Linked DNA regions of Homo sapiens. The protein of the gene in region 2 interacts with the protein of the main gene of each other region in a pairwise test. Each region holds a gene or a part of one and is shown on either strand. Other genes may lie near its edges.

What was found.
Region 1: the proteins of PPP2CB (region 2) and HK3 interact in a two-hybrid assay, tested with the Homo sapiens proteins (one large-scale study listed by BioGRID and IntAct).
Region 3: the proteins of PPP2CB (region 2) and PTPRJ interact in a two-hybrid assay, tested with the Homo sapiens proteins (one large-scale study listed by BioGRID and IntAct).
Region 4: the proteins of PPP2CB (region 2) and ZNF775 interact in a two-hybrid assay, tested with the Homo sapiens proteins (one large-scale study listed by BioGRID and IntAct).
Region 5: the proteins of PPP2CB (region 2) and PDGFRL interact in a two-hybrid assay, tested with the Homo sapiens proteins (one large-scale study listed by BioGRID and IntAct).
Region 6: the proteins of PPP2CB (region 2) and GSTA1 interact in a two-hybrid assay, tested with the Homo sapiens proteins (one large-scale study listed by BioGRID and IntAct).
Region 7: the proteins of PPP2CB (region 2) and MLH3 interact in a two-hybrid assay, tested with the Homo sapiens proteins (one large-scale study listed by BioGRID and IntAct).

The regions. Positions count from the first base shown.
Region 1 is NC_000005.10:176,889,347-176,892,846, forward strand, and holds part of HK3 (hexokinase-3), read right to left. Parts: intron 2,205-3,500; coding exon 2,042-2,204; intron 1,846-2,041; coding exon 1,691-1,845; intron 1,596-1,690; coding exon 1,476-1,595; intron 1,385-1,475; coding exon 1,289-1,384; intron 399-1,288; coding exon 299-398; intron 219-298; coding exon 35-218; intron 1-34. UniProt on the Homo sapiens protein: Catalyzes the phosphorylation of hexose, such as D-glucose and D-fructose, to hexose 6-phosphate (D-glucose 6-phosphate and D-fructose 6-phosphate, respectively).
Region 2 is NC_000008.11:30,792,319-30,795,818, forward strand, and holds part of PPP2CB (serine/threonine-protein phosphatase 2A catalytic subunit beta isoform), read right to left. Parts: intron 1,964-3,500; coding exon 1,874-1,963; intron 1,761-1,873; coding exon 1,599-1,760; intron 1-1,598.
Region 3 is NC_000011.10:47,983,559-47,987,058, forward strand, and holds part of PTPRJ (receptor-type tyrosine-protein phosphatase eta isoform 1 precursor), read left to right. Parts: intron 1-3,500. UniProt on the Homo sapiens protein: Tyrosine phosphatase which dephosphorylates or contributes to the dephosphorylation of CTNND1, FLT3, PDGFRB, MET, KDR, LYN, SRC, MAPK1, MAPK3, EGFR, TJP1, OCLN, PIK3R1 and PIK3R2. Plays a role in cell adhesion, migration, proliferation and differentiation.
Region 4 is NC_000007.14:150,382,330-150,385,829, forward strand, and holds part of ZNF775 (zinc finger protein 775), read left to right. Parts: exon of another isoform or gene 1-494; intron 495-1,471; exon of another isoform or gene 1,472-1,662; intron 1,663-3,500. UniProt on the Homo sapiens protein: May be involved in transcriptional regulation.
Region 5 is NC_000008.11:17,587,216-17,590,715, reverse strand, and holds part of PDGFRL (platelet-derived growth factor receptor-like protein precursor), read right to left. Parts: intron 1,249-3,500; coding exon 951-1,248; intron 1-950.
Region 6 is NC_000006.12:52,801,017-52,805,002, forward strand, and holds the start of GSTA1 (glutathione S-transferase A1), read right to left. Parts: upstream 2,801-3,986; 5' UTR 2,769-2,800; intron 1-2,768. UniProt on the Homo sapiens protein: Glutathione S-transferase that catalyzes the nucleophilic attack of the sulfur atom of glutathione on the electrophilic groups of a wide range of exogenous and endogenous compounds.
Region 7 is NC_000014.9:75,027,468-75,030,967, forward strand, and holds part of MLH3 (DNA mismatch repair protein Mlh3), read right to left. Parts: intron 3,249-3,500; coding exon of another isoform or gene 3,236-3,248; coding exon 3,076-3,235; exon of another isoform or gene 3,075-3,075; intron 1-3,074. UniProt on the Homo sapiens protein: Probably involved in the repair of mismatches in DNA.

The DNA.
Region 1 (3,500 bases), on a different chromosome or scaffold from region 2:
TGGAACCAAAGGTCAGGGCCCCCTGCCAGGTCACCTCTGAGCACCAGGATTCAGGGACTCATGGTCCAGGGTATGGTCGAAGGTGGTCAGCACTGGTCCCAGCGCCCCATCATCGCTGAAGGAGCCCCACTCGACGCTGACGCAGACGCGGCCCCGGTCTTCGTCCAGCACTGCCACATGCCGTGCCTCCTCCATGTAACACGCGTTGGTGCCCGTGTCTGGCAGAGACAACCCTGTCAAGGCCTGCTAGCCAGGCAGCACACCCTCCACCTGTCATCACAAATGGTCCATGGCTCACCTACAACTAGCCCAACCTCACACGGCCTGACCCCCGGCTCACAGCCCATCATGGTGCCCACTGTGTCGTTCACCACAGCAACCACGTCGATGTTGTAGGCCTAGATGATGAAGAGGGCAGAGGTCAAGGCTGGCCTGAGTGGCCAGAGGAGGGAATCCAGGGGATGGGCAGGGCTGGGGCCCTGGCTTTGAAGGAGATACATAGAGTCCATGAAACACATGTCTGCATGCCACACACATTTGTGCCACAGATGCTCTGGGCTCCCACCTTATAGGAACTTTTCCTCCAATCCCACCCTCAGCTCCTCCCTAACCCCCAACTTGCGCCCCCAGGTCACAGTGACGTCCACCCTCACCATCTCCCAGGACCAGGATGAGTTTCCTGAGACTGAGCACCTCCTTGAACTCTGCGCCTTGCCAGCCTCACTGTCATCCTGCCTGGCTCCCCAAGCCTGTTCCTCCCAGCACTGGCTTCTCACCACAAGAGGTTAGCCCAGACGGATCAGCCTTTGTCCAGCATCCAGACTCTTGTGTGTGGCCTTCTCTGAGACTAGATCATCCGCCCCAGCCCCAGCCTGACTTGAAGGGAGGCAAACTCCTCCTTCAAGCCCCTGATCAAAGAGCCAGTGCTTCCTCCGTAGTGCTCCCAGAGTTGTCCACGCACTCCTCCTTGACACGGACAATCTTTTATTAGAATGCTTCCCCATCTAGACTGTGAAAACCTTGAGGAGGAGGTCAAAGTCTATTCATGTTTTTTTGCCCCAGGTCCTGAATGTTTATTTGACCTTTCTTAGCCTCAGTGTTTTTTAACCTATACAATGGGAATGGTAGCAACATGTACCATGTATAGGTTAAACTGGATGGAGGTTAAACTGGATGGAGGACATGAAGAGAAGAGGAAAGCAACTCTCTCAGAAGCCCAGACCCAACGCATGTGTGCCAGGCCCAGGCCAACATGGGCAGCCCTCCTGTCACCCCTCCCTCCACTCACCCCCTGCCTCCGAATGGCATCTCTCAGCAGCTGGACCACATCCTGGCCTTCCACACCACTGCACCTAAAACCTTTGGTCCAGGAAATGAGGGTGCTCTGGAGGTAGAGAAGCTGGGTTACTCCTCTGACGGCCTTCATGGGGCTGCAGCCACCCTCTACCCAGCGTCCCATGTCCACTCCACCTCACCCTGTCCAAGCCCGTCTGGTGACAAGGGAAAGAGAAGCTGAAGCCAAGCTGCAGACCCTGTTTGTTCACAGGCTGCGCATCCAGGAACTCAGACAGGCAGTGGGCAGCAAAGTCAAAGAGCTGCAGGAGAAGTGGGGGGGCTCAGCCTTGCCCATCTGAGCCCTAGCCACCCAGCCAGGCCCCCAGACCCCAGAGGCTGGGCAGTGAGTGCTTACCTGCTGGCCAGCACCCAGCATCACCTCTTGGGGGATCACAAACTCCTGGCTTCTGGGCTCCACCCTATGCCCCTCAATGCCAGTTAGAGTCACCCACAAAACACGCAGTGAGGCCCCTGTGGCCCCCAGCTCCAGCACCACGAAGTCTCCTTGCTCTGGAGGGCAAGCAGGTCACAGAAAGCCATGCAGCTGGCAAGACCAGAGCCCTCTGCCCACTTCCCAAATTCCTAAGGCCTGCAAAGTCTGGTCAAGGGGCCATAGAGATGGGGGACAGGAATAAGGAACGTTTCCCTCCCCTAGATCAGTACCCTCTTCCAGGCCTGGCCACGCATCTCAATCTATGATACCCACCAGTGCCATGTGGGGTGGACCCCACGTATGTAGGCAGCATCCGGACCGCAGGGGCAGGGCTGGCCTGTCCCCTCAGCGCCTGCTCCATGGAACCCAAGAGGCTGGCTTGGATCTGCTGTAGCTGTGCCCTTGTCACCTTGAACTGCTGCAGGCACTCCTGCACCTGGGGAGAAACAGGCCAACATCTGGGAAGGAGCACCATTGGGCTGGCCAGACTCCCCACCTCCAAACAAGGCAGAGGCCTGCCCTGCCCAGCCCACTCCTCGGCTCTTCATACACCCTGACTCTCTTGCCAACAGCCTGCACCCAGCTCTGGCATCCTCAGAAGGCTCTGTCCTGGAAAGAGAACCCACCTTCTTCCTCCTCCTGCCCCATTACCTCACGGCTCCTTCTCAATTTCTTACATCCTCTACCCTACCCCTCCTCTTCTTTGAATTCAGGGTTTGGCAAGACCTTCTTCCTGCCATACCACTAATGATTGCTCTCTGGCTCCCCAGGACCCACAGCAAGAGTCTCTCAGTGAGTTGTTGTTGAACGAACAAGAGAATAAACAAATGCACGAACAAACTTCAAGTGTTTCCCTCTCCTAATCCACTCTCAGACTCTGAAGCCTGAAAAAGCCCAGCACGAGAGCATTTGGAGACCACACTGCAGAGGATGGTCCTTTTTTCAGTCAGTCATCCTTCCCAAAACATTGCTCCAGCCCTCACTATGCACCCAGCTGTATTCTAAGCACCGCACACACATAACCACCCAAGAAGCAACAAATGCTTTAGATTCCAGGGTGGGAGACAGAAATTAAGCACGTGAACATACAATTTGGTTCCAGTAGTGATGGTGGCTATTAAACGTAGGGGGGCAGGATAAGAAATTAGAGAGTGACCAGGGTAGAAAGAGGTATTTTTAGATATGAGTTCAAGAGGGTTTCCCTGAGGAGGTGATCTAAATGAAGGAAGGGAACAAGCCATTCGAAGATCCAGGGGAAGAGCAAGGGGATGGATTTGGAGAAGACTGATCCGGGAGTGGATCGGAGTCTGAAGGGGCAGGTGAGAAGGCAGGGAAGGCAGAAGCCAGGACACCCCAGGCTGTCACTCCACCAGAAGCCCAGTAGCTTAAGAGCCCCAGGGACCTCATCCCTGTGAGCAAATACCCTCCCCTAGATGACTCTCTCACCCATCCTTCAAAGAAGCCCCAACAGCCTCCCTGGATTCATTGAAGGGTCACAGCCTGGCAACTCCATCCTCCTCAGGCTCAGACTTTCCAAAGCCCCCACTTCCTGTCACACAGGAGTTCCATTTCAATGACCTATTGCCCCAAACTGGACACTTATCTTTGGAATAACAACTCAGGCACCTGGATAATAAGGCCGCTCCAGGGAGGAGAGGCTGGGAGGAGAAGCTGCCAGTTGAGGGAGATAAGGACAACTCAGTCCCACCTCTTGCTTTAGGAAGAGAATGGG
Region 2 (3,500 bases):
TGCTGGGAATAGAGGCACGAGCCACCACGCCAGCTCATTAGCTATATTTTTGATATTTTGATTAATTACTTGATATACCAATATACCATTTTCCAACTCTTACCTCTAGTTTGTGGTGTCTTTTTCTTTTTCCTCGTTTTTTTGAGACAAGGTCTCACCCTTTTGCCCAGGCTGGAGTGCAGCGGTACGATCATAGCTCACTGCAGCCTCAACCTCCTGGCCTCAAGTGACCCTCTCACCTCAGCCTCCTGAGTAGCTGGGACAATAGACATATGCCACCATGCCCAGCTAACTTTTTGACTTTTTTTTTTTTTTTATATAGAGATGAGGTCTCACTATGTTGCCCAGGCTGGTCTGAAACTCCAAGACTCAAGAGATCCTCCCACCTCGGCCTCCCAAAGTGCTGGGATTATAGGCATGAGCCACTTTGTCCAGCCAATCATTTATGTTTTAGGTACATCCCAAATAACAGCTAAATTTTGATTATTTATCCAATCTAAGAGTCTCTTTCAGGCTAAAATTTTAGTCTCTTTCTTATAATCACTGATATAATTAAATTTATTTTTACTATGTAAATTTGTGTTTTTTTTATCATGCTCCCTTGTTTCTACTGGGCTGGCGAAGTTTTCTCTAAACATCTTGAAGCCACTCCCTACTGGTCTGCAGGGATTATGTTGTTTATGTTCCCTTAGTAGTTGTATAACAGTTAATATTATAGTGGAGAAATCTGGCAGACATCATCTTAACTAAGCAATTAAAGTTGCCACCACCAGCATTGAGACAAGCAGATTTTAGGACCACTTGATACAATGCACGGAGGAGGACACACCATCTTTCTATGTCATGACTGCCAAAAATGCATACATTGAATCCCTAACTGCAAGGAAAACATCAGGCAAACCCCAACTGAGGGATATTTCTGTAAGATAAAATGCTCCTACTCTTCCAAAATGTCAAGAATGTGGAAAACAATGAAAATCGGAGGATTTCCACATCAAAGTAGAATGAATACAACCTAATCTTTGGATTCGACTATGCACATACAGTATGCACAAAAAATTAAATTTTGCTATTAAAGACATTAGTGAGACAATTAGCAAAATTTGAATAAAGTGTTCATATTAAATAACAGTACTATATGAACACAAATTTCCCAACTGTGATAACTATACGGTGGTTATGTGACAGTGTGTCCTTAATTTTACAAAATACACATAGAAAGTTGGTAGTAAAGGAGTATCTGTCTGCAACAGATATTCAAATGGTTCAGAAGAAAGTGTGAGGGGTGAAGAGGAAGAGAGACACAAAATGATAAAGCAAATATAGTAAAATATTTACAGTCAGGAATCTGAATGAAGCATACAGGGAATTATGGGGTACTATTTTTGTAACTTTTTTCTAAGTCTCAATTTCAAAAATGAGTTATAATTCTGCTCTGGTCTACTAGTGCTTTCCCTACTTGCTAAAACCAGCAAGTTTTTCCTCTTTTCACCTAGGTAATAAATGGTGAGGAATGTTTCTTAGTTAAGTCATAATGCCTTATTACAGAAGTATATACTAATCTGAAATAAAGATCATTCTGTCAGGAAAGTACATACCTCCATTACAAGCTGGTGGGCACGAGAAACCAGTGTGAGACCATTGGCATGGTTAAAGGTTTCAGAAATGTCTTGTCCAAATGTGTAGCCAGCACCACGTGGTGAAATACCCCATCCACCACGATCATCTGGATCTGACCATAACAGATCACACATTGGGCCCTGGCCAAGAAAAATAAGTACATGTTACAAATTATTATCAGTCATACTTTATCATCCTCAAAATGTGGTTATATTTTCTTTTCCTTTCTTCTTCTTTTTTAAATTAAGTTTACCTCATGTGGAACTTCCTGTAAACGATCCAGGGCTCTTATATGATCCAGTGTGTCTATGGATGGAGAGAGGCCACCATGGAGGCAGAATATCTATGTATGAATTAACAAAAGAGAATGTATTTGTTTTACTAACTCCAAACAGTTAACAAAGAGTAAATAATGGTTAAAAGTGTCAGTCCAAATAGTGCCAACATTTAAACATATTTTGTCCATCATTTTTTCTTCTTTACCCCTTCTCTGGTCAATGGTATCCCCATCCTTGGGGACCCACCATTAAATTTCTTTTTTTTTTTTTCCCCTCCCTCCCTCCCTTCCTTTTCTCTGGTCAATGGTATCCCCATCCTTGGTACCTACCATTAAATTTCTTTCTTTCTTTTTTTTCTCCCTCCCCACTTCCCTCCTTTCTTTTCTTTCTGTAGAGATGGAGTCTTGCTGTGCTGCTGAGGATGGAGAGCAGTAGCTATTCACAGCCTTGATCACTGCGCAATGCAGCCATGAACTCCTGGGCCCAAGCAATCCTCCTGCCTCAGCCTCCTGGGAAGCTAGGATTACAGGTGCATGCCACTGTACCCAGCTGTCATTACAGCTTCTGTTGGTTATTGCTGATATATACAATTTTTTGTTTCTCTTACAGCAAACACTCTGATTCCTGTTACTGGCTACAATAAATTTTCAGTTCCTTCATATTTTCTAAGTACATAATCAAGTCATTTGCAAAACTATTTTTGTTTTTTCTTCTCAATGTTTATACGTTTTAATTCTTTTTATTGCTTAGTGCATTGGCCAGGACTTCTAAAATAAAATGGAATAATACAAATGTTTTCTGTTTTGTTTTTTGTAAACTACCTAGTTTCAAGTCCATGCTCTAGGTATTCTGAATCAGAGAGAATAACGTAAGTTTTAACAAGCATTTTCTTTCTGATTTTGATTTTTTTTTTTTTTTTTTTTGAGACGGAGTTTCGCTCTTGTTGCCCAGTGCAATGGCGTGATCTCGGCTCACCGCAACCTCCGCCTTCCGGGTTCAAGCAATTCTCCTGCCTGAGCCTCCTGAGTAGCTGGGTTTACAGACATGTGCCACCATGCCTGGCTAATTTTGTATTTTTAGTAGAGACAGGGTTTCTCCATGTTGGCCAGGCTGGTCTTGAACTCCCAACCTCAGGTGATCCGCCCGCCTTGGCCTCCCAAAGTGCTGGGATTACAGGCATGAGCCACCTCACCTGGCCTGATGAGAAGGTTTCTAATGTTTAGCTGATAGTACAACTGGCGTTTCTTTATCCACTTAATATTATTATTTTATAAAATAACTGAGTTTTGAATCATAAATATAGGAATTTTTTTTCCAAATGACTTTGGTCTGATTTTATTTTTCTGTGCGTGCCACGTCTGGTTTGGCATTGAGGTTATACTAGGCATACGGTGTGAGTTTTGAACTCTCCATCTTTTCCCAAGTTCTAGAACACAGAAATTATATGTTCCTTAAAGGTTTGGTAGAATTAGCCTATAAAACTATTTACACCTGGTTGCTATTGGTTGTTTACTTATATTGGACGAATTTCTGCAAGCCAATTTTAATAACTGGTATTTTACTATAGTAAGCTTCATTCAGCTTTTCAAACTTAGTGCACTA
Region 3 (3,500 bases), on a different chromosome or scaffold from region 2:
AACTGGCATCTCATTCCCCTTTTCTAAGACAGGAAGGACGGTCAGAGATGATTCCAACATGAGGACTTTGCTAGTTGCAGTGTCTGACTCCTCCCATTCTCATAGCAGTTTTGCACAGTAGTTTTGGTTTGTGTGTATGTTTTAGGCAATGTGACAAAGCAGTTTTCCTCCTGCCTCCTTGAGAAATTTAATCCTGACAGGTTCTTTAAGAAATCAGCTTGATGTGGGCTGATTTTAAAAGAATAAATGAAAAAAAAAAGCTGGTGACTGATAGCTGTTTTATTGGTCTTGTAGTGTTTTGGTTTTGTTTTATCTTCACTTTCTTGTTTCCTGGTGAATAATAACTGGGTTTATTATCTCTCATGGCTAATCCTTAAGCCTGATTCCTTACCTGTTCCATCCAGAGTACAAAGTATATTTTGACTCCTCTTTAAACTGCTTGTTAGATTCTCATATGAGTGACTTTAAATATTTTTGTTTTGCTTCAGGACAACGGGAAAACCAAACGATTATGTTTTGTTTGCAGACAGTTTACGAAAACAGCAAATTGGTTTATGGTTAGACCGTGACTTTGAGCTGACTTCAAGTTGGGCCCCACGATAAAGATAACCATGGAATACCCAAGCTTTCCTAAGCAGAGAGGATCCTGGCTTCCAAATGAGCAATTTTGGTCAGCAAAGGGGTTATTTAGCTCCTAAAAGTAATTTTTGCTTGAGGTTGGGGCTGAGGCAGAGTGGCTGAACAACCGTAGGCCTGGGTGTAGCCAGAGGATCATCAGTAATTACTTCTCAGTTCATTCACTTCTTGGGCTAGGGAATTATTTTGAGTGCAGGATAAGAGGCAATTTTCTGTGTGTTTCCCTTCTAATATAATGCCACTGATGATATTATAATTAATAGGTAACATTATGCATGACAGGCACTGTGTGCTAAGGGTTTTAATGCATTATTTCATTTGGCCATTTCAGAAATACCAAGAGGTAGGTGCTGTTCTTGTTTATTTGTTTGTTTTTTTTTTTGATAGGGAGTCCCACTCTGTCACCCAGGCTGGAGTGCAATGGTGCAATCTTGGCTCACCGCAACCTCCACCTCCTGGGTTCAAGTGATTCTCTTACCTCAGCCTCCCGAGTAGCTGGGATTACAGGCGTATGCCGCCATACCTGGCTACTTTTTGTATTTTTAGTAGAGATGGGGTTTCACCATGTTGGCCAGGCTGGTCTTGAACTCCTGACCGTAGGTGATCTGCCTGCCTTGGCCTCACAAAGTGCAGGGATTATAGGCGTGAGCCACTGTGCCCGGCCTTTTTTTTTTTTTGAGATGAAGTCTAGCTCTGTTGCCAGGCTGGAGTACGGTGGTGTGATCTTGGTTCACTGCAACCTCCGCCTCCTGGGTTCCAGGGATTCTCCTGCCTCAGCCTCCCAAGTACCTGGGATTACAGGCACGTGCCGCCATGCCCAGTTAATTTTTGGATTTTTATTAGAGACAGGGTTTCAGCATGTTGGCCAGGATGGTCTTGATCTCCTGACCTCATGATCTGCCCACCTCGGCCTCCCAAAGTGTTGGGATTACAGGCGTGAGCCACCGTGCCCGGCCTGTTTTTGTTTTTAAGAGACAGGGTCTTGCTTTGTCACCCAGGCTGGAGTGCAGTGGTACAAACGTAATTCACTGCAATCTCAACCTCCTGGGCTCAAGGGCTCCTCTCGTTTTAGCCTCTCAAGTATCTGGGACTAAAGGCGTGTGCTACCATTCCTGGCTAATTTTTTTTTTTAATAGAGATGGTGTCTCGCTATGTTGCCCAGTCTGGTCTTGAACCTCTGGGCTCAAGTGATCTGCCCACCTTGGCTCCCCAAAGTGTTGGGATTACAGGCATGAACCACTGCACCCAGCCATGTTTTTATTTTATCTGAGAGAAAACTGAGGTTCAGAACTTAACTGTATACTTCTGGAATCTTCACAGAGAAATAAAAAAAAAGAAAAATAATTTACTATAGATTCATTAACTACTACGTGGCGGAGCCAGGGCTGATGTCTCCACTGCCCCAATTTACCATCCTGTGCTGTAAAAAGTCATGGAGAAGGTTTTCTGTGTGCAGCTAAGAGAGGAGGTGGCAGACATTTATTTATTTATTTATTTATTTATTTATTTATTTATTTATTTATTGAGACGAAGTCTCACTCTGTTGCCTGGGCTGGAGTGCTGTGGCACGATCTCGGCTCACTGCAACCTCCATCTCCCGGGTTCAAGCGATTCTCCTGCCTCAGCCTGCTGAGTAGCTGGGATTACAGACGTGCGCTACCATGCGCAGCTAATTTTTGTATTTTTAGTAGAGATGAGGTTTCGCCATGTTGACCAGGCTGGTCTTGAACTCCCAACCTCAGGTGATCCGCCCACCTCGGCCTCCCAAAGTGCTGGGATTACAGGCCTGAGCCACCGCACCTGGCCCAGACATTTTTTAGACAGTCTTGCTGTGTTGCCCAGGCTGGACTCGAACTCCTGGGTCCAGTTGACATCCCTCTTCATCCTTCCAAGTAGCCAGGACTGCAGGGACATGCTACCTTTATTTTGGGTTCTTTGTGTCCTAAACCCTGTATGATCTGCTCCATTTGTAACACAGAGAACCCAGGTGCCCTCTTTCCTGCTTATATTTCTTTGGGGCCTCAGTTTACAAGGCAAGTCTGCCTTTGTGGAGATAGACTGGGGTCTGGGATGGAAAGACCTGGGTTTGGGTCTTTGCTCTGCCACTGCATAAACTCAGCAAGTCACTTAACCTCTGTGACTTCTCATTTCCTTATCTGGAAAATGGGACTAACACTTCCTGCTTCACTGGGTGGTTGAGAGGATCAAATAAGATAGAAAAGGAATTGCTACGTAACACCTAAAGCAAGGCCCAACTGCTAGTTGTGGCTGCTGCTGTTACTTGGAGAGAAGAAATGAGGCCCCAGATCATTAGTTCATATGACAATTTTTTCTTTTTTTAAGACGGAGTCTCACTCTGTTGCTTAGGCTGGAGTGCAGTGGCGTGATCTCCACTTACTGCAACCTCCGCCTCCCGGGTTCAAGCAATTCTACTGCCTTAGTCTCCTGAGTAGCTGGGACTACAGGCACGCTCCGTCATGTCTGGCTAGTTTTTGTATTTTAGTTGAGACGGGGTTTCACCACATTGGCCAGGCTGGTCTTTAACTCCTGACCTCAGGTGATCCACCTGCCTTGGCCTCCCAAAGTGCTGGGATTACAGTCTGAGCCACCACGCCTGGCCCATATGACAAATATTTATGAAGTGTTTTCCACAGAGTAGTATGGAATAACTCTGGGTGTGTGCAAGATGAACTGAGCTCAGTCACAATACTTTTTTTTCCCCTAATGTTAAGAATTATTGGCTGGGCAGGGTGACTCATTCCTTTAATCTCAGCACTTTGGAAGGCAGAGGTGGGAGGATCAGGTGAGCCCAGGAGTTTGAGACCAGCCTGGATGACAAAGTGAGACCTTGTCTATACAAAAAA
Region 4 (3,500 bases), on a different chromosome or scaffold from region 2:
CAAACTCAGGGAGCAGGTATTTCCGTTCACCTGCGCCTTCAAGAACCTGAGCTCAAAGCGCTGCAATGACTGGCCAGGGACTAGCAGCGGCTCAGTGGTGGGTGGGCTGGGACTTGGGGTTCTTGATTAAGACATGGGGTCCTGAGGGGAGGGACCAGGAAGGGTGGCCTTGAGAAGGACATCCCTGCCAGCCTCAGGCAGTGGGCTTCTAGGGGGAGACTAGGGCTGAGGAGCCAGCCAGGTGGCGGCTGAGGGTCACCCAAAGATGGCTGAAGGGGAGAGGGCCCGCTGCATCCCCTTGGGCCAGAGCCCACAGGCCAGGCCCTGAGGATCTTAGGCTGCACCAGGCTTGCCGGACACAGGCTCATTGTCTCTAGGGCTTTCTGTCTTGCTGTAACGTCTCTCCAGCCAGCTGCAGCTCCTGCTGACTTATCCCACCCCAGCGCAGGTCATCCAACGGTGACTTATGGCCCCGGCCTCCTGGCTCGATGAGGGTATGTTGCTTCTGTTTCTACCTCTCTGAGTTCTTTTCCTCGGAGCAAGTGACCCTGATGGGATGGCCATGGGTGTACAAGGATACTTGTGTCATGGGTGGCTTTGCAGTTCTGTGTTCCTAAGTGTGCTGTGCAGTGATTCGTGCTGCCCTGGTTCACAGTGGCACGTTTGTGTGTCTGTGGATCTGTAGGTGTGTCTGTGAGTTTTAAAAAATATCTCACATTCTCTGTATTTGCATAGACAGTTTTGCAGGTGTTCTCACGTAGTTTTGTGTCTTTGAACTTTTGTTTACTTAGCTGTATTTAGATATGATTGTATCTGGGTGTGTTTGTGTGTGGTTTAGCATTTACATCAGTTTCTTATGTCCCTATGATCATATATTTAAATTAAAAACATCTGCTATTAACTGAAATCAGAGGCAGAGAATACCATTGCCTGGTCCTGAGGGATTTCTTAATAGTGACAGAAGACTGGAGCCTGAGGAGCCACCTCTTGGGTCCTCCATTGTTTCATTCACTCATCCGTTCATTCATTCAATACACATTACACACCTTCTGCATATGAGGGACGCGCAGGTGTGGGAGCAAGCCCCCGCTCCCTGGGGCTAACCTGAGTGAGGGGTCTCACAGGGAGAGAGGACTGGGTGAGGACATAGCAGTCAGGTATGGGCTGCAGGAGGGCAGGGAGGCGCTGGGGACCCGGTGGAGTTGAGAAGGATGAGGCTATAGAAAGGGGCAGCATGGCAGGGAGGCATTGGCTGGGCATGGGCTGGGACTGGAGAGGCCAGTTTCTGTGGGGGTCTCCTATGGAAGACCAGCTGAGCTGTGCCCAGCAAGTGAGGACCTGCTGGGACCTCAGGGCTGAGAAGGGCCTGATACTGGGCCTTTGGCTGGGGTTTGGGGAGCTGCCCCCACCCCCAAAAGCCTTAGCGCCTAGTGGCGGATCCTGCTCCCGCTCCACTAGCAGCAGATGATACCTGTGGCATGGTCTGCTTCTGACTGCCCGACCTGGGGCGCTGAGGCTGTGAGAGCTGTGCTGGGCTGGTGGGAGGTTCCAGGGGCGGCGATGGGGAGGACCTTGCCTCTTTCTGGCCTGTGGCCTTTCTCCTCCCCCAGCTGCTGTCTGGCCGCCCCACCCCCAAGTCTCTGCCACAACCAAAGCTCCTTTGTTGCCTCCCCCTGCCCCGGGCCTCTCCACCTGCTGCTAGCTCAATCCCCTCTTTGTGTGGTTGGTCTTCAGTTGTCATGGCAGCTGGGCCCAGGCTGAGGCCTGCCCACTGTGAGGCTCTTAACTGAACTGCAGCCTGACCCGGTGCGCGGAGGGCCGGGCCAGGGCCAGGCGTGGGAAGGGGGCCCCTGTGTGTCCTGCTCCCCTCAGAGCCCGAGGGGCAGCAGAGAGGAAAGGTGGTCCGGTAGGGGCCCGGGGGCCCTTGTGCGATAGACAAAGCGGCCTTCCAAGACTTGGTGTGGGCACTGGTGGGAGATGGCGCATCTGGCCCTTGATGCCTGTCTTCCAGCCGGGGCGCTTTGCTGGGCAGCCTGCTCACCTGGCTCCTGGGTGTCTCCAGGTGGCTGAGGACATGTCAGGATGGTAGGTTAGGAGGGGCCCGCCATGCACAGAGCAGAGTGAAAGGCAGAATAGGAGAGAAGCTTAGGGTGGGGACGTGTGTGTCTGGCCAGCCTGGAACATGACACATGGAGGGCTTTCCTGGATTTTGTCTGTAGGACACCTGCTGTGCCATTTCCCAGACATAGCCCACCTGAGCACACAGGTAGAGGCGGGTCCCCAAAGACTTGGCCTCCCCTCATTCCTGTCCTCTGTGTTTCCCCCTTTGAATTTCTCACTTCTTCCTCTTGGGTCCTCTTCCTTCTGTCTCCATTTCTGTTCTTACGTAAGCCACAGGCTGCTTCCCCTCGAGCCCTGGTATGGCCCGAGACAGAGGCACCGAGGCTTGAGGGAGGAGCTGCTCTGGGAGGTCCCGGACAGTGGAAGGCCTGCTACTACCTGGAGTGGCTGTTAGGTCCTAATACCTCTTGGGAGGCAGGGTGGGTGAAGTAGGACTGTCTTTGATTTGCCTTGGGGGTCTCGCTCTGTGGAGACCCAGGCCCATCCTTCTGTCCTCCTGAATTTGTGGCCTGGGCTCTGCCCTCCTCGGTCTGAGTTCCCCTTACCAAGGTGGCTTCTCTGTCCACTAGCCCCTCTGCGCCTCTTCAGGTGGATGTTAAGTCCAGTTGGTGAGAGGTTTCCCAAGATGTGGCATGCAGAAGCTCACAGAGTGGCCCCAAGGGAGGAGGGTGGCGAGGGAGGGAGGAGCCCCCAGCACCCATCAGAGCCCCACCAGGGGCTCCTCCCGCCCCCTTCCCCACTGCTCGCCTTTTCTCTGCACCACAAGCAGGTTCTGTAAGAAACCATGGTAGGCATGCGTACAGGCCCCTGTTGGGGAAATAGAATTGAAAACAAAATCTCTTGCCAACCCAGAAAAGCTCTTTGCAAAAGTAGAAGAGAAAAACAGCTTTTAAAAGATTGAATGTGCATGAAACCAGAATGTGGTGCGCACCATGGACAATCCCCCGAGCAACTGCAAAGACGGGAGCTCTGAGCCTGCAATACCCCAAGCGACTGCAAAGACGGGAGCTCTGAGCCTGCAATACCCCGAGTGACTGCAAAGACGGGAGCTCTGAGCCTGCAATACCCCGAATGACTGCAAAGACGGGAGCTCTGAGCCTGCAATCCCTGAGTAACTGCAAAGACGGAAGCTCTCAGCCTGCATGTAGCCGGCAGGTGCAGCCCGTTACAGACATGTTCTCAGGATAAACAGCAACCAGCCCTCCAGCAAGAGGACTGGACATTACCATTTGTCACACGCAGGCAGGTCGTCCTAAATTCACCTCATAATTGGAGTGACCATCTGTGTTAGCTAATTGCCTTTACCCACAGGAAAAATAAAGTTCTTATATTTTTATGACAGGAGATAGTTTTGTGATTTGGAGCCAGGCACCTGCTGA
Region 5 (3,500 bases), about 13 Mb from region 2:
TTTTGAGACGGAGTTTCACTCTGTCACCCAGGCTGGAGTGCGGTGGTACGAACTCGGCTCACTGTAACCTCTGCATCCCGGGTTCAAGCGACTCTTCTGCCTCAGCTCTGCCTGAGTAACTGGAATTGCAGGTGCATGCTACCACATCTGGCTAATTTATATTTCTTGTAGAGACGGGGTTTCACCATGTTGGCCAGGCTAATCTCCAACTCCTGGCCTCAAGTGATCTGCCTGCTTTGGCCTCCCAAAGGGCTGGGATTACAGGCATGAGCCACTGCACCTGGCCACACAATATGAATTTTTAAACATCCATCTCTATGCATAATAGTTTTCTATAACATTTTGGTTTCCCATAAAATTCCACACATCATACATTTTCATAGAAAATTGTCATATGGTTTTGTCACATGGTTTCCTGTAAAATTTCACTCTTTCAGCAAATGTTGGTAGGATTTGCAATTTTTTTTTTTTTTTTTTTTGAGATGGAGTCTCGCTCTCTGTCACCCAGGCTGGATGGAGTGCACTGGCACTATCTCGGCTCAATGCAAGCTCCACCTCCCAGGTTCGCACCATTCTCCTGCCTCAGCCTCCTGAGTAGCTGGGACTACAGGCACCTGCCACCACGCCCAGCTAATTTTCTGTATTTTTAATAGAGACGGGATTTCACCGGGTTAGCCAGGATAGCCTCGATCTCCTGACCTCGTGATCCGCCCACCTCGGCCTCCCAAAGTGCTGGGATTACAGGCATGAGCCACCGCACCCGGCCTGCAATTGTTATTAACTGGGTAAAGAAATAAAATCTGTGACTTTTGCCCTTTGAGCTTCTATTTTTATGATCTATTAGGGTAAAATGGAACATGTCAGAAACAATGTGTAATAATAGTTAAGAAGGAATTTTGTTAACTATTACAAATCCTCAACCCTACACAGTTTTAAAAAAAAATGCTTACCTGAGGCGAGAATCCTTAAAGGTGTCCAGATACGCAGGGTAGCTCCACCCAATTCTACTCCCTTTACATCGAAGCTCTACAGTTTGCCCCGCCAGCAGACTCAGGGTAGCGGCGGGTTTCTGGAAGCGACCTTTATCCAGCACTTGCATCATGATAGACTGCGTCTTTGGTGCTGAATTGGCTGAGTCCCTGTCCTTCATTTTAGGAATTTTGGGCTTCACCTTCTTGTTGGTAGGTTTGATTCTATTCTCTCCTGGTTCTTTTGGACGCTTGTTCTTGGGAAGGTGTTGGCCAGTAACTGCAAAACGTAAGGAGAGAGAAATGCGCTGTAGTAATGACATTTTTGGAATATTTGAGGCCAATAACTTTTTTTTTTTTTTGAGACAGATTCTTACTCTATTGCCCAGGTTGGAGGGCAGTGGCATAATCTCAGCTCACTGCAACCTCCACCTCCCAGGTTCAAGTGATTCTCTTGCCTGAGCACCCTGAGTAGCTGAGATTACAGGTGCCCGCCGCCACACCCAACTCATTTTTGTATTTTTAGTAGAGACATGGAGACAGGGTCTCAGCACGTTGGTCAGGCTGGTCTCGAAGTCCTGACCTCAGGTGATCCACCTGCCTTGGCCTCCCAAAGTGCTGGGATTACAGGAGTGAGCCACCATGCCCAGCCCTCATAGCTTTTAGGTAACTCTAGAGAAGATAACTTTTTAATCCTCCCCTCCTCATATGTCAATATTGTTTTCAGTAAAAGTCATGTAATTATCATCTTTTGATTAATTTTAAAACATTAAAAAATATTTCAGCTCCAAAGATATTATTCAAATTCAGCAAAACAGTTCATGTATGAGCTAAAATTTGCCCTTAGAAAACAAAAATATTACTGCCTGTAGTTCACACCGTCTCATAGTCTCCAAGCAGTCACACAAAACAGCAGAACTGAAGCCATTCAAGGCTGTTTGTTTACTTTGCAGTCTATATGTTGTCACCATTCATTTTGATTCTACTGTTTAAACACAGAAATCTGTAGCTCCACAGAGACTGGGGACACAAACTGTGCTGAAAGTGCACGCAAAATATTTTGTGTTTAACGTTAGAAACGGAATCTCACTCTGTCACCCAGGCTGGAATGCAATGGCATGATCCTAGCTCACTGTAGCCTTGAACTCCTGGGCTCAAGTGATCCTCCTGCCTCAGCCTCCTGAGTAGCTAGGCCTACACATATGTGAGACCATGCTGAGCTAATTTTTTTTTTTTAAAGATGGGGCCTTGCTATGTTGCCCAAGCTGGTCTCAAACTCCTGGCCTCAAGCAACCCTCCCACGTAGGCCTCCCAAAGTGCTGCAATTATAGGTGTGAGCCACTCTGCCCAGCCAAGATTTTGAACCACAGTGAACTTTCTCTCAAAACAAATGGTAAAGCAGACATTACATTTGTCAGGGGCTGGCGATGTCTAGGTAGAATAAAATGCTTATTATTAAAGAGTAAATATTATGTGTATACTAATCTGAAGCTTACATATAAATTATCAAAACTCAACTGTAACTGTAGCAACGATTTAGAATTTCACCAACAAAATGTCTCTGGGGAAGGAGTATTTTATCACCAACATTGTTGAGAGTTGCTGGCAAATAGTGATAATAAAAAGCTAACTGACTTTAAGTTGCTTTTGTTGTCATTTTTGCCTTCTCTATAAGTAAGGCACCCTTATTGCCTGCATCCAGGGAAGAGTGCCCCCACTGTTCTGCCTGTGGTGGGCCACCGGACTCTAAAAATCTCAGCTAAGCCCCTTGCAGCCACACAGTTGTGTCCACTCAACAAGAATGAATAGGGGACTGTAGGCCAGGTGTGGTGGCTCATGCCTGTAATCCCAGCATTTTGGGAGGCCAACGCAGGTGGATCAGTTGAGGTCAGAAGTTTGAGACCAGCCTGGGCAACATGGCGAAACCCCATCTCTACTAAAAATACAAAATTAGCCAGGCATGGTGGCGCATGCCTGTAATCCCAGCTACCACTCGGGAGGCTGAGGCACAAGAACTGCTTGAACCCGGGAGGCGGAGGTTACAGTGAGCCGAGATCACACCACTGCACTCCAATGCCTGGAGACTGAGACTGAGACCGAGACTTGAGCCCACAAGTCCGAGTTTATGATGAGCTATGATTGTACCACTGCACTGCAGTCTGGGTGACAGAGCAAGACTCTCTCTCAAAAAAAGAAAGAAAGAAAGAAAGAAAAGCCCACCATTATCATGCCCAAGAAATCTGTGCCCCATAAATACTTTAATGCCTGTGAAATTAATGAACCTCTGGATTAAGGTCTAATTTGGTATTCTGTGTATCATGTAACAGGAATTCAAGCTACCAGAAATGACAATAACCATCTGTAAATCCTATGGAATTTAGACAAACAGAGCTACTTGTCTGATCCTTCTAAGCTATCACATCTTGTGTATCTATGTTACTCAGGAACATGAGATTATCTGATTTTGGAGATTATGCATCCAAATATTTGCTATTATCTATGCAAAATAATTTGACCTTTTGACCAAATAGC
Region 6 (3,986 bases), on a different chromosome or scaffold from region 2:
GATTACAGGCATGTGCCACCACACCCGGATAATTTTGTATTTTTAGTGGAGACAGGGTTTCAGCATGTTGGACAGTCTGGTCTGGAACGCCTGACCTCAGGTGATCCACTCGCCTCAGCCTCCCGAAGTGCTGGGATTACAGGAGTGAGCCACTGCACCCGGCCTCAACTAATGTATTTCTAAAAAGGTATGTATGACTAAAATTAGGCATCAAAATCTTTTAAATGTCTCATTTTAAAATATGGGAGTCAATAATTAACCTTTGGAAAGTAAAGAATTCTTTGAAATCATACTGAATCAACTCACCTGTTTTGTCATGAGATATTTTGACATTGTACTTTCTATGATAACTCCAGGAGCAATTTAAAGTAACTTGGGAAATGGAAATAGCATAATTTGACAGAGTGAAAGGGAGAGTGAAGTTCAGATGAAAGCATGGGGTATGCTTGTTTAATTGTTATCGACTAGAGTTCACAGTGTTGTAATTCCAATCCCCAAACTAAACTCTCTTAGCCATTGATTGAGGATCATGTTTCAAAAGGAAGTGAAATTTTATCTTACATAATATTTTATCACAACACTCCTGCTGATAACTAGCATATCACTTTCTCAATGTGAGGTTTCCAAGGGTCAGGCTAAGACTGAGACATAGGTTACCATTGAGCTTTGTTGGGTCAACAGAAAATGAGAACCAGAGAGCTCAAGGATTTGCCATGGGTCACACACACATGCTCCTCATTCATAGTCAATATCTAGGGAGTGTGTTTACCTTCCGCAACAACCCTGGGAAATGGCTCCTATTATCCAAATTAAAGATGGGCACACTGAGTTTCAGAGAGCTAAAGCACCTGTCTCATGCTGCACACTTGGTGAGTGTTGGGTCAGCCTTAACTTCTGATTGCAGGTCCAGAGCTTTTCCACTCCACCTCATAACCTGGCTCTCAGCTCCTGTCTGAGAAGTTGTTTTGTATTTTCCTATTAAATATATATTAGCCAAATAAATGTTGGAAGGAGAGGACGAGAGGGGAACATCTAATTCCTGAGTTCCTCCTGTTAGCAACTTTTCAGGGGCTTGCTTGGAAGAAAAAATTGATAAAACTGTGACTTTCTCTGATTTGACAACCTAAAAATCAGAGTGAGTTGAGGACTAGTATAATTACTTTACATCAATAATTAACTTACATCAATTAAAAAATGGGCTTGTTTTGAAAGGAATATAAGCTCTCATAATTCCAGGAGTAAATTAAAGGAGTTACATTTACATCTCTGAGGTGGTCCCAATGACACTGTTTCTTATCAGAGAGAAGGGAGAATGAGATAAACTATGACTCCTTCCATTATGAGATTCATAAATGCAGTAGGTTGTTTAATCTCTGAGCCTCAATTTTCTCTTCTTAGAATAGAGATAGTTATTTCTACTTTTGAGGGTTGTTGAGAAAGTTAAATGAGATAATGTACAAAAAATTCATAGTAGGAACACAGCAATGGGTGTTTGCTCTTGTCCCAGTGCTTGGAAGATGGGTGAGTCTCTGGACATATTGAGTAGCCCATGGATCCTCTTTCTTTGATCTATCTATCCATCAATTATTTTACTGACCAACAATCTATGTATATGTATCTATTTATAATCTCTGTCTACCCATCCATGTATGTATTATTTTATCTATCAATCGTTCTATGTATCTATCTCTTTGTAATCTGTCTCTTCATCATCTATTATCTGTCTTGTATCCATTTCTCTGGTTCTCTATATTTTGTTCATAGAACTCGAGTAGGAATAAGATTTTATATGAATCCAGACTTATATCAAATCTGTCATATGATGGCTCTCTGTTTCTCTCTCTCTTTCCTTTTTAGCTCCTGTACAGAAGATATTGATATTCACTAATCAGTCCACCTGGATTAACAGGAAATTTTCAGTGAATGTCCAAGCAGTGGGGCACATCAGTAACACAGCCTTGCTTAGCCCCATGAGGTCATGTAGTCCCATGGTTCTCAACCAGGGGGATTTTGCTCCTCTGCTCCAGAGGACATTGAGCAAGGTCTAGAGACATTTTGGGTTGTCATATCTGCGGGGAGGGAAAGGGGGTTACAAATCAGATAGGTAGAGGCCAGGGATGCCTAGAAACATCCTAGAGTGAGCAGGACAGATCTCCATTCAAAGAATTACACAGTTTAAAGGGCAGCAACAGTCGGAGCCTCTTTCTTAGCTATCCTCTATATTGGCCATGAGTTGGTAGAACTCCAGAGACAGAATATGACTTGTCTTTGAGCTAATTAGTGGCAAAGGCTCAACTAGAATCTAGTTCTCCTGACATTCAAACTAATTTATTCTAATTATACTAAACCTGAGTTTTGTATTTTCACAGCCAATATAGAATTACAGTGTCACAATTTACAATTGTGTGTTGACTACTTACACAGAGAAATAAATTTTTGCATACATTGCCACTTCTTCCAGCACTGATTATTCTCAGATTGTTTAAAATGCTACCATTTCTTTTTTCTCTTCATGTCATTGTTTCCCATACCATTAAATGCTGAAGCCCTGGTTTTCTAAATTCTTCATTTTTACAATTCTGTAAAGATGTATCCAACAGAAAAGAAATAAACAATTCTTGAACTGTCACCCAAGCACACCAAGACGGCACAATATGAGTAAAAACAGACTTTTCCTTGTGCTAAGGACACATATTAGCATATTTTTCTAGGAGGCTAGAGAGGAGGGTGTGAGGCAATGTAGAGAAATTTATAAGATCAGTACTTACTTTGTTAAACGCTGTCACCGTCCTGGCTCGACAACTGAATTCCAGGTCCTAATGTATTTATAAGCTCTTTGTTCCTCTCAATAGTTCTCTCCCACTGAAAGAAGAGTCAAGTTAGGGAAAAGCCACTCCCACACATTTCATGGCCAAGGGGCCACCTACTGGATTCTAAGACATGAGGCAAGTGATCTGCTTATCAGAAGACACTGGTTAATGTGTTCCTTTTCAAGGTTGGCAATCAAAGTTTACACAATACATTTCACCGAGATTTTGCTCTTTTTGCAAGTCAGCAGAAACTGGCTTTTTAAAGATGCTTTTTTTCATGAGTTGGGTGCAAAGACTAGGGCAACTGAAAAATCTCTATTGTGAGCATAGCTGGGAGAGGATGTCTGTGAAGGGCAAGCTGATGCCACCGTTTTCTTACTGGGTTGCCAAATAAAATATAGGACATCCATGTAAATGTGAATTTCAGGCAAACAATCAACAATTTTTTAGTTATAGCTATGTTCCAAACACGGTATGAAACCAGATTATACTGAAATATTATTTATTGTTTATCTGAAATTCACATTTAGGTGGGTATCCTGTATTTTATCTGACAAATCCAGAGACCCTATTTGCATATGCTATCCTCTTTGCGTCACTCAAATTGCCCATAATATAACAAATCTGAAAGTATTCATCACCTGGATTCATCAATTGCAAATAATCTTATTTCACCTATACCATGTAGGGGGTTATGTTGGCCCCCAAGAAAGATAGGTCCATATAGAAATCCCTAGATCCTGTGAACTTGATCTTATTTGGAAAAAGGCTCTTTGCAGATGTAATGAAGTAAAAGAATTTGAGATGAGATCATCTTGGTATATCTGGATAGGCCCCAAATCCAATGACAATTGTCCTCACAGCAGAGAGAAGAGAAGACACAACACACAGGGGGTGAGGTGCTGGAACACAGAGGCAGAAATTAGAGTGATGTGGTCATGATCCATGAAAGTCCAGAAAGGCCAAGAGCCCCCAGAAGCTAGAAGACGCAGGGAAGGATTCCTGGAAATCACTTCTAATCCAAACACGCTGGCACAATGACACACCAGGGAAAAATAATTTTGCATATAGTTACTTATATGTAATTCGCATATACCATCTGTATCTTCGCAGCCAGGCCTGAGTGGCACTGAAGGAACTGAGGGAAGGCTTATGCCCGGGTCCCCACAGAGCCTT
Region 7 (3,500 bases), on a different chromosome or scaffold from region 2:
CAGGCTGGTCTCAAAACTCCTGACCTCAGGTGATCTGCCCGCCTTGGCCTCCCAAAGTGCTGGGATTACAGGCATGAGCCACCATGCCTGGCCCACGGACTCTTACTAAAATAACTTCTATTTATTTTTATATTTTTGTATTTTTTGTCTCAAGATCTGTTTGTGGATAAAAGATCTTGTAAGAGATTTACTTCAGTAAAAAAAAAAAAAAAAAAAAAAAAAAAAAACCCAAAAGAACACAGAATAAGTAGGATGCAAGAGGCAATGGTGAACAAAGACTCTGGTGAACACTTTTTTTAATCTAAATAAAGATTGACTATAAAATAAATGACCACCAGGGAATTAAAAACAAGGTGGAATTAAAGTACTAGACAGCAACATGGAAGATGGGAGGAGGGTGATGGGAGATGAACAGTTTGTAAGATTTTGGTACAGTTAGGAAGAGGATAGAGAAGTGAATTACTTTTAAACTTTGATAAGTATGCATGCTAAAAGTTAAGGCTAATCTCTAAAAGGATATAAATGGAATATATAACTTCTAAACGAGTAGAGCAAAAAAAAAAAGAGAAATACAGAAAACTATAATAGAAAACAGGAAAGGAGAGGAAAAAGACAATAAAGACAAAATAAATGATATTTGCTATAAAAAAAGAAACATATAAGTAATCAAAATAAAAAGTAATAGTTCTCTCTAATACCTCCAATGCCACAGCCCAGCAGTAGCTTTCCAAACCTTTACCAAAACATATATGTAAAGTAATCATATTTGGAATGCAATCTAAAATGGACCTTACTCTCCTGCTTAAAAGTTTTCACTGGCTGCCTATAGGATAAAATGCAAACTACTTAGTAGAATATGCTAAATTATTTTATGATTTGACCTTGACAACCCATCTAGCCAACTCCCATCCAGTCAAAGATCCAAGTATAACTTCTGATTTCCCCCCAATTTTTTTTTTTTTTTTTTTGAGACGGAGTCTTACTGTGTCACTCAGGCTGGAGTGCAGTGCAGTGATCTTGGATCACTGCAACCTCCACCTTCCGGGTTCAAGCAATTCTCATGCCTCAGCCTCCCAAGTAGCTGGGATTACAGGCACATACCATCATGCCTGGCTAATTTTTTAATTTTTAGTAGAGACGGGGTCTCATCATGTTGGCCAGGCTGGTCTTGAACTCCAGACCTCAAATGATCCGCCCGCCTTGGCCTCCCAAAATGCTGGGATTACAGGCGTGAGCCACTGCACCTGGCCTGATTTCCCCAAATCTTAACTACCAATAGCCTAACGTTGATCAGAAGCATTACCAATAATATAAACAGTTGATTAACACATATTTTGTGTGTTGTATATATTACACACTGTATTCTTACAATTAAGTAAGCTAGAGAAAAGAAAATGTTGGCCAGGCGTAGTGGCTCATGCCTGTAATCCCAGCACTTTGGGAGGCCAAGGCAGGTGGATCATTTGAGGTCAGGAGTTCAATACCAGCTTGGCCAACATGGTGAGACCCCATCTCTACTAAAAATACAAAAATTAGCCGGGGCATGGTGGTGTGCGCCTGTAATCCCAGCTACTTGGGAGGCTGAGGTAGGAGAATCGCTTTAACCCGGGAGGTGGAGGTTGCAGTGAGCTGAGATTGTGCCATTGCACTCCAGCCTGGGCATCGCAAAAAAAAAAAAAAAAGAAAGAAAGAAAGAAAGAAAGAAAAAGAAAATGTTAAGAAAATCATAAGAAACAGAAAATATATTTATTATTCATTAAGTGGAAATGAATCATCATAAAGGTCTTCACCCTCATCATTTTCACATTGAATAGGCTAAGGAGGAGGAAGAAGAGGAAAGGTTGGTCTTGCTGTCTCAGGAATGGCAGAGGTGAAAGAAAATCTGCATTTAAGTGTACCTGCGCAGTTCAGACCCAAGTTATCCAAGGATCAACTGTAGATCTTAATTTGAGCCATATCTATTGATAGTTCCCTAAACATAGGATGTATCTCAAGTCTCTGATATGTATTCCTCTGTCTAGAATGCCCTTCTCCCCTCTTCTGTACTCAGCACTTTCCCACTATTCTTTTTTTCTTTTTTTTTTTGAGACAGAGTTTCACTCTTGTTGCCCAGGCTGGAGTACAATGGTGCAATCTTGGCTCAATGCAACCTCCGCCTCCCAGGTTCAAGCCATTCTCCTGCCTCAGCCTCCTGAGTAGCTGGGATTATAGGCATGCACCACCACGCCCGGCTAATTTTCTATTTTTAGTAGAGATGGGGTTTTTCCATGCTTGTCAGGCTGGTCTCGAACTCCCGACCTCAGGTGAACCACCCACCACGGCCTCCCAAAGTGCTGGCATTACAGGTGTGAGCCACCTTGCCCAGCCTAGTTTCCCACTATTCTGTAAGACTTTTCTGGCTGTGTGCAGTGGCTCATGCCTGTAGTGCCGGGGGTTTGGGAAGCCAATGCAAGGGGATTGCTTGAGGCCAGAAGTTCAGGACCAGCCTGGGCAACATAGTGAGGCCCCCATCTCTACAAAAAAAAAAAAGGAAAAAATTAGCCAGGCATGGTGGTGCGTGTCTGTAGTCCGAGTTACTTGGGAGGCTGAGGCAGGAAGATTGCTTGTGCCCAGGAGATCAAGGCTACAGTGAGCTATGATTGCACCACTGCACTCCAGCTTGGGCAACAGAGTGAGACCTGGTCTCTCAAAAGTAAAAACTTTTCTTAAGAAAACAGCTTTTCTGTGACATTTTCATTGACTTCACCTCCCCAGGCACACAAGTCATTCTGTGTTTCCATAACACTTCTGAAAAACTATCTTGGTGCATTCTAGACTCTTAGTTTTCATTACCTTTATCACTGGGAAGAAAGCAAAACACATACCTCTACTAGCCAAAGTTCACTGACTATAATTCTTTAAATGCCCTTCTTCCTTATTTTGAGCTAACTCATCTCTGAATTTCTAGCTCCTGGCACACCGCAGGTAAATACCATGAATACTTGTTGAAGAAAAGATGAATTCAGAGAATCTACAGACAAAATATGAGGTTACCATCACTCAGCAATTTCCTTAACATCTGCAGCTGTGTCTTACCTCCACAATACTCTTGGTCACAGTAGATCTTCCTCTCCGAAGTTCATTGGCTTCTCTTTCCACAAAACATAGTGGTACTTTTCCCACAAGGACCAGAGAATCACTAGTGTCTGGAAATACAAATTCAAGGCCCAGATCTTCCAGATTTTTGTGGTAACACCTAAAGAGATAACCTCAAATGTTAAAAAAAAAAAGAGTGCTACTTCATTTGCACTTCACTACTGGTTCCAAATACTACTTAATAGTTTTTCAAAAGCTGCCACAGGGCTTAACAACCGTATTGTTTTTCTCACACTTATGTGTGGGTGTTTGGGATTTTTTATTATCAAATTTCCTTTTTGAATTACAGTAACCTTTATTGTTTTTCTCTTTTCCATTGGGAATCAATCTGTGTCTAAGTCTTGTTTCTAAGTGTGTTTTCTTCA